Linked DNA regions of Homo sapiens. The main gene of each other region encodes a partner of the protein of the gene in region 2 in a complex. Each region holds a gene or a part of one and is shown on either strand. Other genes may lie near its edges.

Evidence for each region.
Region 1: the proteins of GPR4 (region 2) and GNA13 are in contact, whole or in part, in a cryo-EM structure (PDB 9JHP), measured with the Homo sapiens proteins. Residues at the interface, in NP_005273.1 of Homo sapiens: Gln45, Asn50, Arg115, Ala118, Val119, Ala120, Pro122, Leu123, Ala126, Ile204, Val208, Ser211, Val212, Ser213, Thr214, Glu218, Lys221, Ile222, Leu225, Asn290, Glu291, Gly292, Ala293; in NP_006563.2 of Homo sapiens: Arg47, Pro341, Tyr343, Phe359, Lys363, Asp364, Ile366, Leu367, His368, Asn370, Leu371, Lys372, Gln373, Leu374, Met375, Leu376, Gln377.

What each region holds. Positions count from the first base shown.
Region 1 is NC_000017.11:65,046,716-65,053,740, forward strand, and holds part of GNA13 (guanine nucleotide-binding protein subunit alpha-13), read right to left. Parts: intron 7,014-7,025; coding exon 6,787-7,013; intron 1-6,786. UniProt on the Homo sapiens protein: Guanine nucleotide-binding proteins (G proteins) are involved as modulators or transducers in various transmembrane signaling systems.
Region 2 is NC_000019.10:45,599,205-45,606,134, forward strand, and holds the start of GPR4 (G-prodeshotein coupled receptor 4), read right to left. Parts: upstream 3,009-6,930; 5' UTR 2,891-3,008; intron 1-2,890. UniProt on the Homo sapiens protein: Proton-sensing G-protein coupled receptor activated by extracellular pH, which is required to monitor pH changes and generate adaptive reactions. Activated by an optimal pH of 6.8-7.2.

The sequences.
Region 1 (7,025 bases), on a different chromosome or scaffold from region 2:
TAGGTCCACGCTCTAGGTAAAGAGTTCTGAAACTAAAGTCTACTTTTCATAACAAAACTATTTACTTGTTCCATCTCTTAGTTGTTTAATAAACATTTTCAGAGAATCATAAATTATTGTGCCCCTAGCTTTGTTTAGCAATAAAAGGTAATATAGAAAGCAGCACAGTATTTTCCAATTCCGGAAGCTTTAGCACCAAGAACCCAGACATCCTACAGCCAGTCAAGTTTTCACCCAAAAAAATGCGAACATGAAAATTTCAACATAATAGAATACAAGTGATACCACCTATGTGTGCATGCACACACACTTCACAAAGTTGTATTAAAACTATAAGTGTAAACTTAAAGGAACTGACGGAAATTTTAAAAAAGAAATTAATTAAAAAGAAAAAAACTTCATTTTTAACGTAAATAAACATAAAGCTCTGGGTTTACAAGATTTGGATAAAATGTAACCACTCTGACATCTGATCAATTTCATCAAAAGGAAATTAAACTCAACTTTAAAATCTCTACTATCTCTGGCTGGGTGAGGTGGCTCACTACTGTAATCCCAGCACTTTAGGAGGCTGAAGCAGGAGGATCACTTGAGCCCAGGAGTCCCAAGGTTACAGTGAACTATGATCACACCACTGCACTCCAGCCTGTGTAACAGAGTGAGACTCTGTCTCTAAAAAATATTAATAAAGTAAGATAAAAACCTCTACTATCTCTAATGTTATATATAATCTTTATTTTAGATGGGATGAAATATTTAACACTAATCCTAGAATCAAAAGATAACCAATAGGTTTTTAGCAACTCAAAGTCCTTGCTTGACTATACTTATAGAGAAAATGGACCAATCATCCAAAAGAAACATAGTATTTTACAACTGAAAGTAGCAATTCTTTAATATTTAAAGCAAATCCAAATTAGCATTAATTAATAAATGACTCTGATTCTTTTTTTTTTTTAAGAGGGAGGGGGCTGTCCTCACTATGTTGCCCACATTGGACTTGAACTCTTGAGGTCAAGCAATCCTCCTGTCTCCCCAGAAGCTGGGACTACAGGAGCTTCAAATGACTCTTGATTGTATTATATTTCCAATACATGCTGCAGTGCAAATAAATAAATAAAAAAAATTAGCTGAAACTGAAGTTTCTAGAATACTTAGTTGGACCTCCCCTTTTTACAGGCCAATCATGGAGCTAAATGGTTACTTTGTTACACAGATTGAGGGAGTAAATCTCTGTGTTAATGAATACACTATCTTATCGGCTTCAAGAAGAGTAACCTCAAGCACAAAAAGAAAAGAATTAAGTCTAACTGAAGGTACCATGATTAGCAAAAACACTTTGGTTTCAGGAATTGCAAAGACAGACTGGCCATTACAGGAAGTTGTATTAATGCTGACAATGTTAAACTGTTTACAGAAAGTAGGAAGCTGTGGGATGTTCCTCCCACTGTCACACACACTGTCCTGTCCTACGTAACAAGTGTTGCCTTATTTCTCAATAAGTGAATATAAATTAAACAAAAAAAAATAGTTGGAAATGACTCCTAGCCATTTTGTCAGTTTTCATCCATATCTCCAATTGTATCATCCAGCCAACCCCTGACTCCCATCTCTTTATTCATCTGAGTTACCAAATTATCTAGCTATTGTCACATAAGAAGGTTTTCTAAAGACAGGGTAACTCAAAAGTGCAGTGGCAGGCTATGTTGAATGTACAGCCAGAGTAGAGTATTTCAAATATTTAATTCAGTACTAAAACAGGCCACTTCTTACAATCTATTATCCTCAGTATGCTAATTTATAATAACTAGAAAGGTACCTTAAGTTATAACGAGAATGTGAATCTTGTATTTTTCTTTTCCACAGTAAGCTATTTAGCTGACCCATGATGGAACTAACCAAAAAAGGAAATGTTTACCTTTGGGAACTTAGAAAGAAAAACATTCATGTTTACACCCAAAGTTATTACTAACAAATGAGTAGTCTGCTAAAAACCTAAGCTGTGTTATCAACACCCTATCCCTTGTCCCGAAAATTGATTAAAGGGCAGTTGTTCATCTTAGGCAAAATGTTAAGTCATGTAGGGCCTTAAAACCTGTCAGTTTTTAATGTGCATTAATAAGTTTAATAATCAAATCATTAGTTGAAACGAAAAGGTTAATTTTAATTTTAGTTATTTTATCTGCTAACCTCTATTTCTTCTGATGTTTACCTTTCCTATCCAAAATTCAAAAATATGCTGCTAAACATAACAAAACACATTTCAACCCCCCCAAATAAAAATTATAATTACACAAGAACTGTCCACTTCCTAGAAAATTAGGAAACTATTATAGAAATAATCCATATTTCCCAGAAGGAACTTAATGTAGAATTAAATTATATTACATATTTTTTAATTTTTATTTTTTTGAGACAGGGTCTCACTCTGACGTTCAAGCTGGAGTGCAGTGGCATGATCTCCACTCACTGCAACCTCCACCTCCTGAGTTCAAGCGATTCTCGTGCCTCAGTCTCCTGAGTAGCCAGGACTACAGGTACATGTCACCATGCCTGGCTAATTTTTGGTTTTGGTTTTGGTTTTTGGTAGAGATGGGGTTTCACCATGTCAGCCAGGCTGGTTTCCAACTCCTGACCTCAAGTGATCTGCCTGCCTCAGCCTCCCAAAGAGCTGGGATTACAGGTATTTTATTTTTTTAGAACATCTTTGTAATTAAGAATGTCTGAAAAACGAGGAAATAAAAGTGTCAGGCACTATGCTAGTAGGAGAGAAAAAGACAAACTAGGCATACCAAAGGACTTCTACATGACTGACAGCCACACATGAAAGCTGTGACTCTAACACACATAATGGGTACTGTGAGGAGTGACAGGAGTAAGCATGCTAGGGAAAGCAAAGGACACGGAGATCTCCATTCTAGCCAAGAAGACTGGAGATGCTTCAAATAAAGAGACACAGCCCCTAAGGCACTGTTCCTGGGGAAAGGGAGGGGGCATGGAGCAAATTCATCCAAACCACCTATGGCTATTTGCTGAAAACACAGATCACTGGGTCCCATCCCAGAATCCAGAATCAGATCCTCAGGTATAAAGTCTGAGCATCTGCTTGTTTGTTTTAACAAGCATTCCAGTCCATGGGGTCCATGGGCCACATTTAGTGTGATTATCACTACATTAAGTGAAGGGTAAGACCTAGTAACAGATAGGGTAAAGAATAATTCTGGCAGAGGGACTACGCATGATGAGAGCTATAGAAGCAAAAAATTAGGGTATGTGGGAATCAAGAGATTACAGAGTATGTCCAGTGGCCTAATGAAATATATTGCTGGAATCACAGGTAAGCTAGCTAGAGTCTTTACTCCCACAAAAAAGCTGAGCTCTGTTCTGAAGACAATGGTGAGCCACCAAAGCTTTCTGAGCAAACCAATGCTGTGTTTGAACAAGACTGCCTTGGAGTCCAAGCAAGAGGTAGCAGAACACAAAATAGAGGAAAGGAGGGAATGAATGCAAGAGACGTTACAGAGGTAGAAAAATCAGAACTTGGGGAGCTGCTGCATGTAGATGAGTAGATGGAATTGATGATGACTTTGAGGAAAATTTTAAGTAAGCCAAGTGCCTTCTCAGTGCCTGACACTATGCCAAGCACCACAGCACATCCAAGAGTTTAAGAGTCATTAAGTCAACATAATAATGGAGCATCTCTATGTGTCAGGTGCTATTAACAATGCTGAAGCCACGCACAGTGGTTCATGCCTATAATCCCAACATTTTGGGAAGCCAAGGCAGGAGGACTGCTTGAGGTCAGGAGTCCAAGACCAGCACTGGCAACATAGCAAGACTCCGTCTCTACAAAAATTTTTTTTTAAATTAGCTGGGTGTGACGGCACACACCTGTAGTCCTAGCTACTTGAGAGACTGAAGCTGGAGAATCACTTGAGCCCAGGAGTTGAGTCTACAGTGAGCTATGATCACAACAGGGCACTCCAGCCTGGGCAACAGTGAGACCTTCTCTTAAAAAACAAAAACAAAAAAACAAAAAACAATGCTGAGCGTAGACTCAGGAAAAAAGAATCTCTGTCCTCCAGAAGTTTAAAATTAGGTCTTGCTCTGTTCCTCTTTTCTTGTCTCTACTTTTCATCATGGAAAAAAGTATTTCTGGAACTTATCTCTCCTCATCTTTGAGGACTTCTTTGCTCCTTAAGGATCAACTGGCTCAAGTCAACAACAAGCAGGTCCTCATCCTGAGTGGTTTTACCTATTCGTTCTTAATCACAAAGATATACTTAGGGATGCTTTCTCAACAATGAGGACATGACAGTCCTGATGTGAGACAGTTAGACGTCAGCTTCCAAATTAAAAAACTGTCCATGAAACACAACTTTAATTAAATGGACTTAGGGCAAATACGGAACTTCCCCACAGAGAACTTTCAGGTATGCAGTTCTTTATTTATTCATTTAATCCATATGCACTGTATGCTTATTACAGATGAATGTTTCTTCTCTGACCTGGAAGGATGAATAGAGCCTGACAAAATTGAGTTGAAAGTGTGTGGTTTGTTGAGAAAATGAACTAAGAAGAAAGGAGAATAAGCAGCACTTAAAAACAGGAGGTAGATGGCCAGGCACAGTGGCTCATGCCTGTAATCCCAGCACTTTGGGAGGGCAAGGCAGGCAGATCACCTGAGGTCAGGAGTTAGAGACCAGCTTGACCAACATGGAGAAACACTGTCTCTACTAAAAATACAAAATTAGCCAGGTGTGGTGGCGCATGCCTGTAATCTCAGCTACTTGGGAGGCTGAGGCAGGAGAATCGCCTGAACCCAGGAGGCGGAGGTGAGCCAAGATCGCGCCACTGCACTCCAGCCTGGGCAACAAGAACAAAACTCTCAAAAAAATGCAAAAAAACAAAAAACAGGAGGTAGAGTGATGGGCGATGGAAAGGGGTATATGGAAGAACTCATGCAAGCAAATCTACCAAAAATAAAGTAATAAACATTGATCAAGGGACAAAACTAACCAGAAATCTGGGAATTGGATGGAGGTCATTTGTCAAGTTAAATTCATCATTTTCAACATGCAATACTGGCAGCTACGTAATTTTAACAATAATGTGAGACAGTCCCTGCCTTTCAGAAATAAACACATTACTTGAAAAGACAAGATACAAACATGATAGAAGAGAACTATACAAGACGGTAAATAATCAAATGCTAGTTGAATGACAGATATAAAAGCCATAATTCAGATATAGTCAAAATTAAGGTGTCAGTTTTATAAAAAGCTATCGTGAACACTTTCCTGGAACTTTTAAAAGGCAAGACTGCTTCTAAGTATAAATAATAACAGCAAGGACTGCTGGTTGTACATCGCTTTGCAGCCACACCCATTAATGTGGATTAATGTTGGTGACATCATCAAACAACTTCCTAAGCAGCTTATTTATTTTTTTTTTGGAGATGGAGTTCTGCTCTTGTTGCCCAGGCTGGAGTGCAGTGGCACGAACTCGGCTTACCGCAGCCTCCGCTTCCAGAGTTCAAGCGAGTCTCCTGCCTCAGCCTCCTGAGTAGCTGGGATTACAGGTGCCTGCCACCACACCTGGCTAATTTTTGTATTTTTAGAAGAGACGGTGTTTCACCGTGTTGGCCAGGCTGGTTTCAAACTTCTGACATCAGGTGATCCACCCGCCTCAGACTCCCAAAGTGCTGGGATTACAGGCATGAGCCACCGTGCCCAGCCAGCAGTTTTACTTTTAACTGTCACTTCATTTTAATCATATTAGAGTAAAACACTTCAGATCTGAACTACCTCCAAATTGCACACAGTCTAGATTTCTATCACTGCTGGAATCTTTCTGATCTTTGGCAAATAAAACCCAATCACAGCATTCACAGTTAAATTACAAAACACTTGATTAAAAATTTGTTTCAACTGTATTCTGTATCTTTAACCTGGATTGGATACTTTTATTCCAAACCTGTCTTCAATGCTGTGTAACAGCTACAAAGCATTTTATGGGTAGTCTCGTTAAAGAAAAAAGGGGAAAAATGCCTGGCACAATGCCAGCAATTTGGGAGGTCAAAGTGGGCACATTACCTGAGGTCAGGAGTTCAAGATCAGCCTGGCCAACATGGCGAAACTGCCTCTACTAAAAAGACAAAAATTAGCTAGGTGTGGTGGCACGCGCCTATAGACCCAGCTACACAGGAGGCTGAGGCAGGAGAGTTGCTTGAACCCTGGGGGCAGAGGTTGCAGTGGGCCAAGATCACACCACTGCACTCCAGCCTGGGCAACAGAGACTCCGTCTCAAAACAAACCCCCCAAAAACAAAAAAACAAATTTCTGAGGCTATAATTTTGGATAGATACATTAAATTATGGAAGTCAGTGAAAAAAGTGTGCTAAAATCAGATACAGGTTGAGTGTCCCTTATCCGAATGCCTGGGACCAGAAGTGTTTTGGATTTTGAATTTTTTCAGATTTTTGAAATATCTGCATACATATGAGATATGCTGGGAATGGGACTCAAGTCTAAACTAGAAATTCATTTATGTTTCATATATACCTTAAGATATGTAGCCTAAAGGTAATTTTATACACTATTTTTACACGTAGTCATTAGAGACTAGGACACATTAGGTCTGTGCCTTAGCCTTTCAGTCTGTTCCTCCATCTCAAATACTTTTAGATTTGGGAACATTTCGAATTTTCGCATTAGGGATGTGCAACCTGTATTACTAAACATCATTAAAATAAAACCACACGTTTTAAAAGAGCAAATCTCTTACCAGTTGAAATTCTCGACGCCGGTCATAGGCATTCTGTATGCCGCTGTCTGCCCATAATGCTCTTATAGCAGGAAGATATTGTAAGAAAACCCTTGTTTCCACCATTCCTTGGGCTGCCATGGGGGCCCGGGTATCAAACGACATCATCTTATCTCCATGTTGTTGGTTTGAGTTGTCTCCCCAGGGAATATGAAGCTTCTCTCGAGCATCAACCAGCACCCTCATACCTTTGTTTAAAA
Region 2 (6,930 bases):
CTGGCCCCCCCAACTTTAGCAGCCTCGGCTGCCGCATCCTGCCAGCCACCCCAAAATCCAGCAAAGCTGAAAAACTTGGAGGATTTTGAGGACAAGAGGGAGAAGTGCTACAGCCCCCCGCATCCCCCAGCACCCCTGGGCTCACTCACCAGCCTTGTCCCCGATGCCACCAGGCTATCTCACCTCCCCCTTTTCCTCCTCTGTGGGCTCCTGCTCCCACCACCCCCCCCTCCCCGCCTTCTCCCTGCAGCCCCAAGGGACCAGCCAGCTCCGGTCTGCTCATTAGGGACGAAATGTGATCACTGGTCCTCGCTCCCCACCTGGTGCCCTGGCGGCCGGCGGAAACCAGGGGGCAATCGGGCTACCCTAACGGCCCCACTGCACCTCAGTATCCCTGTTTCAACCGAGAGGGTCTCTGTGCCCCCAAAGCCCACACTGCCTACTAGGGATACCAGTCCTTAGATGGCCTCTCTGACGTTCTAGGTCTCTATGGTTCTGCAGTCTTCAGGTTCTATCCTTAGTTCACTTCGCAGTTGAATGTTCTATTATAACATTCTAGAGCGTTACTCTTCTTTCATTCTATTTATTACATCGTGGCTTTGTAAGTACCTACCCTAAGTTTCCAATATTCTAGGAGTGTCACATTCCAAGATTCGAAAGTTCTATTGTTAGAACACGCTATGATTTTTTTAAGCATTCTATGACTTTCATAATCTATTATTAAACGCTCAGTGATTTTTATCTTTCCCCAGCAAACAGGAATATGTATTTCCCTTTTCTCTTTTACAGAAATGGGAACATACACTAAATACGGTGAGCCCCACTTCCTTTTCTTTCCCCCCTTCTCTCGCCTGCTTTTGAACATTCCAGCAGCCTGATTTCTAAGATTGTGCAGAATTCTAAGAAATTATGGCTTCATGGAGGGAAGAGAGGGGCGTGTTAGTCACCACCTCCACCTGGCCCCTAAATTCTCACCACCTGGGGGTGACATGCTATATCCAGGCCGCCTCTCTACCCTTTCGCTAGTGGGCCTAGCCTCAGCCCTCCCCGCTCACACCAGCTGAGTTATTATTTGTCTAGACACAAACCAAATTATAGGCCCTGTCCCCGAGGGAACGGTGGGCTCCAGGCGGAGGGTCAGGAGACTGAAGCTGGAGTTAATCCCGGTTCCCCTCCACCTCCCTCCCTCTCTTCCCGAAACTCCACCCCTTCCACCCAAACCAACTATTGCCCCTCTCCCTCCCCACCACCATGGTTTTGGAAATATTTTCTCTCCTCTGCTTCTAAAACCCTCCCTTCTGGATTCCAGCCATTTCTACTCACCCTGGCATCTCTCCCTCCTCATTGAGAAGACCTCTTTCCCCAAATTAATCCGACTTAGTGGTAGCAGAAGAAGCCAGCTCTGTGGATTTGGGCTTCAGTTGAAAACTGGGGTCCCAACCCTCCAGCCTGGCACTGACTCACTGTGGGGACTTCTGCTTTTGGACCTCAGTTTCTCCATCTATAAAATGGGGGCAGGGGGAGTTGGCCTAGGTGGCTCCGCAAACCCTTTCCAGCTCTCAGCTGCCATCACTGAAACGTGCCAAGATTTCAACACTCCTCTTTTTGGATTGAAGGACTCCAGTATCCCCAGGACCTTTGATTGGAAAGATCTGGAATTCCCAGGCCTCCCCTCCAATGCTTCTTCCATCTGGGCCCTTCCATTCAAAGATGTTCACATTCAAGGTACTTGATCATAGGATTCCCAGGGTTCCAGGAGCCCCTATGGGTCTTTCATCCTCTTCAGCTGGGATTCCCCCAGAAAAGAAAACCTCCTCATCCTCACCCCAAACCTGAAGTCAAGTTCATCTACAAAGACAGAGGTGGGGGCGGATACCCCCTTGGTGGGCTCAGGAGGAGGGGGGCTGATGGTGGGCTCTGGAGGGGGAACTGGGGGGTGTGGCCCCATCCTCTCCACTTCTGCGCCAAACAAATTCCCCAATGCATATCCAGCCTGAGTACGCACACACACACATCCCACAACCGATGCCTCACAGATATCCTAGAGCTATTCCTCAGCCTAGTTTGGGAGGAGGGGTTGTCCAGTTCCAGGGGGGAGAGTGAGGCGGAAGCAGGAAAGAGTTAATGGTGACCCAGCCAAATCCTGGAAGAGAGGAAGTAGGGGAGGAAGTCCACCCCCCAGGCAGGAATTCCTGAAATTGGCGGGCGGGCTGGGTGCGACCTGAGGGGCAGTGGGGTGGCTCCGTGAAGGGGGCGCTGGGATCATGGTGTCACTTAGAGTCCGCCTGCCCCAGGTCACAAGCCTCCTGCCCCCTACCCCACTCCCAAGCAGGTTCCCAGCCCAGAGGAAAGTTCCGGGATGCGGAGGATTTGGAAGGAGAGAAGACAGAGCTGAAGGTGCCAAAACAGTGTTATAAGAGACGGAGAGAAAGAGACAGGGCAATAGAGATGAAGAGACAGGAAGGGAGAGAGCAAAGAGATACACAGAGACAGGGAGAGATGGAGATAGAGTCAGAGACATCCGCAGAGGTCCCACAACAGACGGGGGTGAGGCAGAGGCAGGGGCAGAGGGAGGTGGGACCCAGAAACAGAGAGACAGAGACAGACAGACGGAGACAGAGAGGCAGAGATCAAGAAAAAGACAGAGACATCCAGAGACACAGAAGGAAAGACACGTCCAGAGGCAGAGGGACCACAGACACAGAGACATCAGGCGGGAGTTGGAGACAGACGCAAAGCCAGGGAGAGCAACAGAGGGGGCGGGCACCGAGACGGCGCGGGAGACTGAGGCAGCCCCCGAGGGGGCGGGGAGGAGCGGTCTCGCCACGAGCAGGGCAACCTAGTGAGACCCCGCAGCATCGCGGGCAGCCGGGGAGGACCCGGCACTTACCTGCGCGCGGCGACTGGACGGGGCGGGCGGCGGCACCTCTCTCCGCTGCGTCCAGGTCCCCGGTCTTGACAACGGCGCGGGGACCCAGCGGATGCCCCCGCGGGGCAGAACAGCGGCTACTCCTCCCGGCCCCCGGGCCAGAGCCGCCAGCCGAGGCCCCGCCCCGGCCAGGCCCGCCCCCATTAACCCCACCTTTGCCGCTGCCCCTTAACCCCTTTCAGGCTTCACCCCATTAAACGCCTCCAGCCACGGGTGAGGCTCATCTGCTACTGGAACACCCCCGAATCCTTCCAAGTCCCCAGCTGGAAGGTCCCCTCTCTCCAACCACACACCCCCAAATTTATCAGGTCCTCGGCTATGGGAAGAGGAGGCCCCCGCTACTGACCTTCCCTGGGTTAAGCCATTTCCTCCCTTAGAGACCCCAGGCTTCAGTCATTCATCCTCTGGTCATTAACCTTCTGCATCTTCCTCCCCAACAACGGAGAGAATAAAGGGTTCTGTTAGGTCCCCAACTCCAAAGTCAGGGCCACCCCTAGAAGGAGCTCTGGGGTTGCATTTCCAGCCTGACTCTTGGTCAGACCTTAGGCTAGTGACATCTCCGTGCCTCAGTTTCCTCTTTGAATCAAGGTGGTCACTCATGGTGCCTGCTTGCTTCCTTCTTTTCTTTGCTTTGCTTTGCTTTGCTTTTTTCTTTCTTTTCTTTCGAGACAGAGTCATGCTCTGTTGCCCAGACTGGAGTGCAGTGGCACAATCTTGGCTCACTGCAATCTCTGCCTTCCAGGTTCAAGCGATTCTCCTGCCTCAGCCTCCCGAGTAGCTGGGATTACAGGCACACACCACCACGCCCGGCTAATTTTTGTATTTTTAATAGAGACGGGGTTTCACCAAGTTGGCCAGGCTGGTCTCGAACTCCTAAGCTCCAGCTATCTGCCCACCTCGGCCTCCAAAAAGTGTTGGGATTACAGGCGTGAGCCACCGTGCCCCACCTTTTTTCTTTTTTTGAGACAGGTTTTCACTCTCTTGCCCAGTCTGGAGTTCAGTGGCACGATCATGGCTCCCTGCGGCCTCAACCTTCCAGGCTCAAGTGATCCTCCCACCTCAGCCTCCTGAGTTGCTGGGACTACAGGCGTGTGCCACCACACCTGGCCAATTTAAAAAATTTTTTTTTTCTATAGACAGGGGTCTCACTATGTTGTCTAGGCTGGTCTCAAACTCCTGGGCTCAAGCCATCCTTCTGCTTTGGCCTCCCAAAGTGCTGGGATTATAAGCCTGAGCCACCGAGGCCGGCCATCATGGTCCTTTTCTCCTGGCGGTCTCATTTAATGGTGTCAATGCTATCAAGTCTGTAAAATATGCCAACCAGACCCCAACACTCCCCATCTTTCTCTGCCTCACTTTTCCCCTACCCTTTGGGGAAGGCAACATTCTCTTATTTTTTTCTAGTTGTCTGCCTTCCTACTAGGAAGAGTGTCATTTTTGTGTCTGGCTTGTTTACTGTTGCATGTCTGTTGCCTAGAAGACTGCTGGGCAGGTGATAGGTGTGAAACACATTGTTTTCTGGCCGAGCGTGGTGGCTCACGCCTGTAATCCCAGCACTTTGGGAGGCTGAGGCAGGCGGATCACGAGGTCAGGAGATGGAGACCATCCTGGCTAACACAGTGAAACCCCATCTCTACTAAAAATACAAAAAAATTAGCCAGATGTGATGGTGGGCGCCTGTTGTCCCAGCTAATCAGGAGGCTGAGGCAGGAGAACGGCATGAACCCGGGAGGCGGAGCTTGCAGTGAGCCAAGACCGCGCCACTGCACTCCAGCCTGGGTGACAGAGCAAGACTCCATCTCAAAACAAAAAACAAAAAACATTGTTTTCAGGGAGTGAACAAATGAATGATAAGTGCTCCTAAAACATTAGCTTATTTTTATTATTAACATCACATCTTTCATAAACTAATCATGAGAATTCATTATTGGTCAAGGGACTTCAGATAGATGTGGCATATAACACTAAAAAATGATAGCTGTCAGGTTTGATTTTTTTTTTTTTTTTTGAGACAGAGTCTTGCTGTGCCCAGGCTGGAGTGCAGGGACATGATCTCAGCTCAATACAACCTCCTCCTGCCGGGTACAAGCAATTCTCCTGTCTCAGCCTCTGGTAGCTGGGTATACAGGCATGCACCACCACACCCAGCTAATTTTTTTGTTTTTAGTAGAGACAGGGTTTCACCATGTTGGCCAGGCTGGTCTCGAACTCCTGACCTCAGGTCATCTGCCTGCCACGGCCTCCCAAAGTGCTGGGATTACAGGCATGAGCCACGGCACCTGGCTTGTTTTTTGTTTTTTTGAGACAGAGTCTTGCTCTGTCCCCCAGGCTGGAGTGCCATTGTGCCATCTCAGTTAACTGCAACCTCCACCTCCCAGGTTCAAGTGATTATCCTGCCTCAGCCTCCCGAGTAGCTGGGACTACAGGTGAACACCACCACACCCGGCTACTTTTTGTGTTTTTAGTAGAGACAGGTTTTCACCATGTTGGCCAGGCTGGTCTCGAACTCCTGACCTCAGGTGATCAGCCTGCCTAGGTCTCCCAAAGTGCTGGGATTATAGGCATCAGCCATCGCGCCCAGCTCTTTTGTGTTTATTTTTAAATTAAATTAAAATGTAGGCCAGGCATGGTGGTTCATGCCTGTAATCCCATCACTTTAGGAGGCCAAGGCAGGTTGATCAATTGAAGCCAGGAGTTTGAGATCAACCTGGGCAACATAGCAAGACTCTGTCTCTACAAAAAAAAAATTTCTTTTAACTAGCCAGCTGGGTGGTGCGTGCCTGTGGTCCCAGCTACTGCGCAGGCCAAGGTGGGAGGATCACCTGAACCCAGGAGGCGGAGGTTGCAGTGCGCCAAGATCGCACCACTGCACTACAGCCTGGGAAACAGAGGGGGAAGAAAGGGCACCTAAGCTCTGTGGCTCATGCCTGTAATCCCAGCACTTTGGGAGGCTGAGGCGGGAGGATCACTCGAGCCCAGGAGTTTGAGACCAGCCTGGACAAAAAAGTGAGACCCCCATCTCTACAAAAAAAAATAAAAAATAAAAATTAGCCGTGATTAAAAAATAAATGTAATTAAAAATTACATTTAATTAACAATTAGTCTCAAAAAATTTGATTAAAATGTTCAGATCTTAAGGGAAGAATATAAGGAATCCTGAAAATTGGATACACCATGTAATTAAACACCCAAATCAAGACTCAGGATATCGGCCAGGTGCGGTGTCTCACACCTGTAATCCCAGCACTTTGGGAGGCTGAGGTGGGCAGATCACTTGAGGTGAGGAGTTCAAGACCAGACTGGCCAACATGGCGAAATCCCGTCTCTACTAAAAATACAAAAATTAGTTGGGTGTGATGGTGGATGTCTGTAATCCCAGCTACTCGGAAGGCTGAGGCAGGATAATTGCTTGAACCCAGGAGGTGGAGGTTGCAGTGAGCCGAGATTGCGCCATTGCACTCTAGCCTGGGCGACAGAGCAAGACTCCATCTCAAAAAATAAATAAATAGTGCAGGTGCACTGGATCATGCCTGTAATCCCAACACTTTGGGAGGCCAAGGCAGGCGGATCACCTGAGGTCAAGAGTTCAAGACTAGCCTGACCAACATGAAGAAACCCTGTCTCTACTAAAAATACAAAATTAGCCGGGCGTGGTGACACATGCCTGTAAACACAGCTACTCGGGAGGCTGAGGCAGAAGAATCACTTGAACCCAGGAGGTGGAGGTTGCAGTGACCCAAGATCGTGCCATTGCACTCTAGTCTGGGCAACAAGAGCGAAACTCTGTCTCAAAAATAAATAAATTAATTAATTAATAAAACAAACAAAAACATAGCTATTCTTATAATCTTGTGTGGCTTTGGACAGGTGACTTTACCTCTGTGAACCACATTACCCCCTTCCTCTCAGGGATTTTTCTTTTAAGAGATGGGGTCTCACTCTTTTGTCCAGGCTGGAGTACAGTGGCTCCATCATAACTCACTGCAGCCTCTACCTCTGGG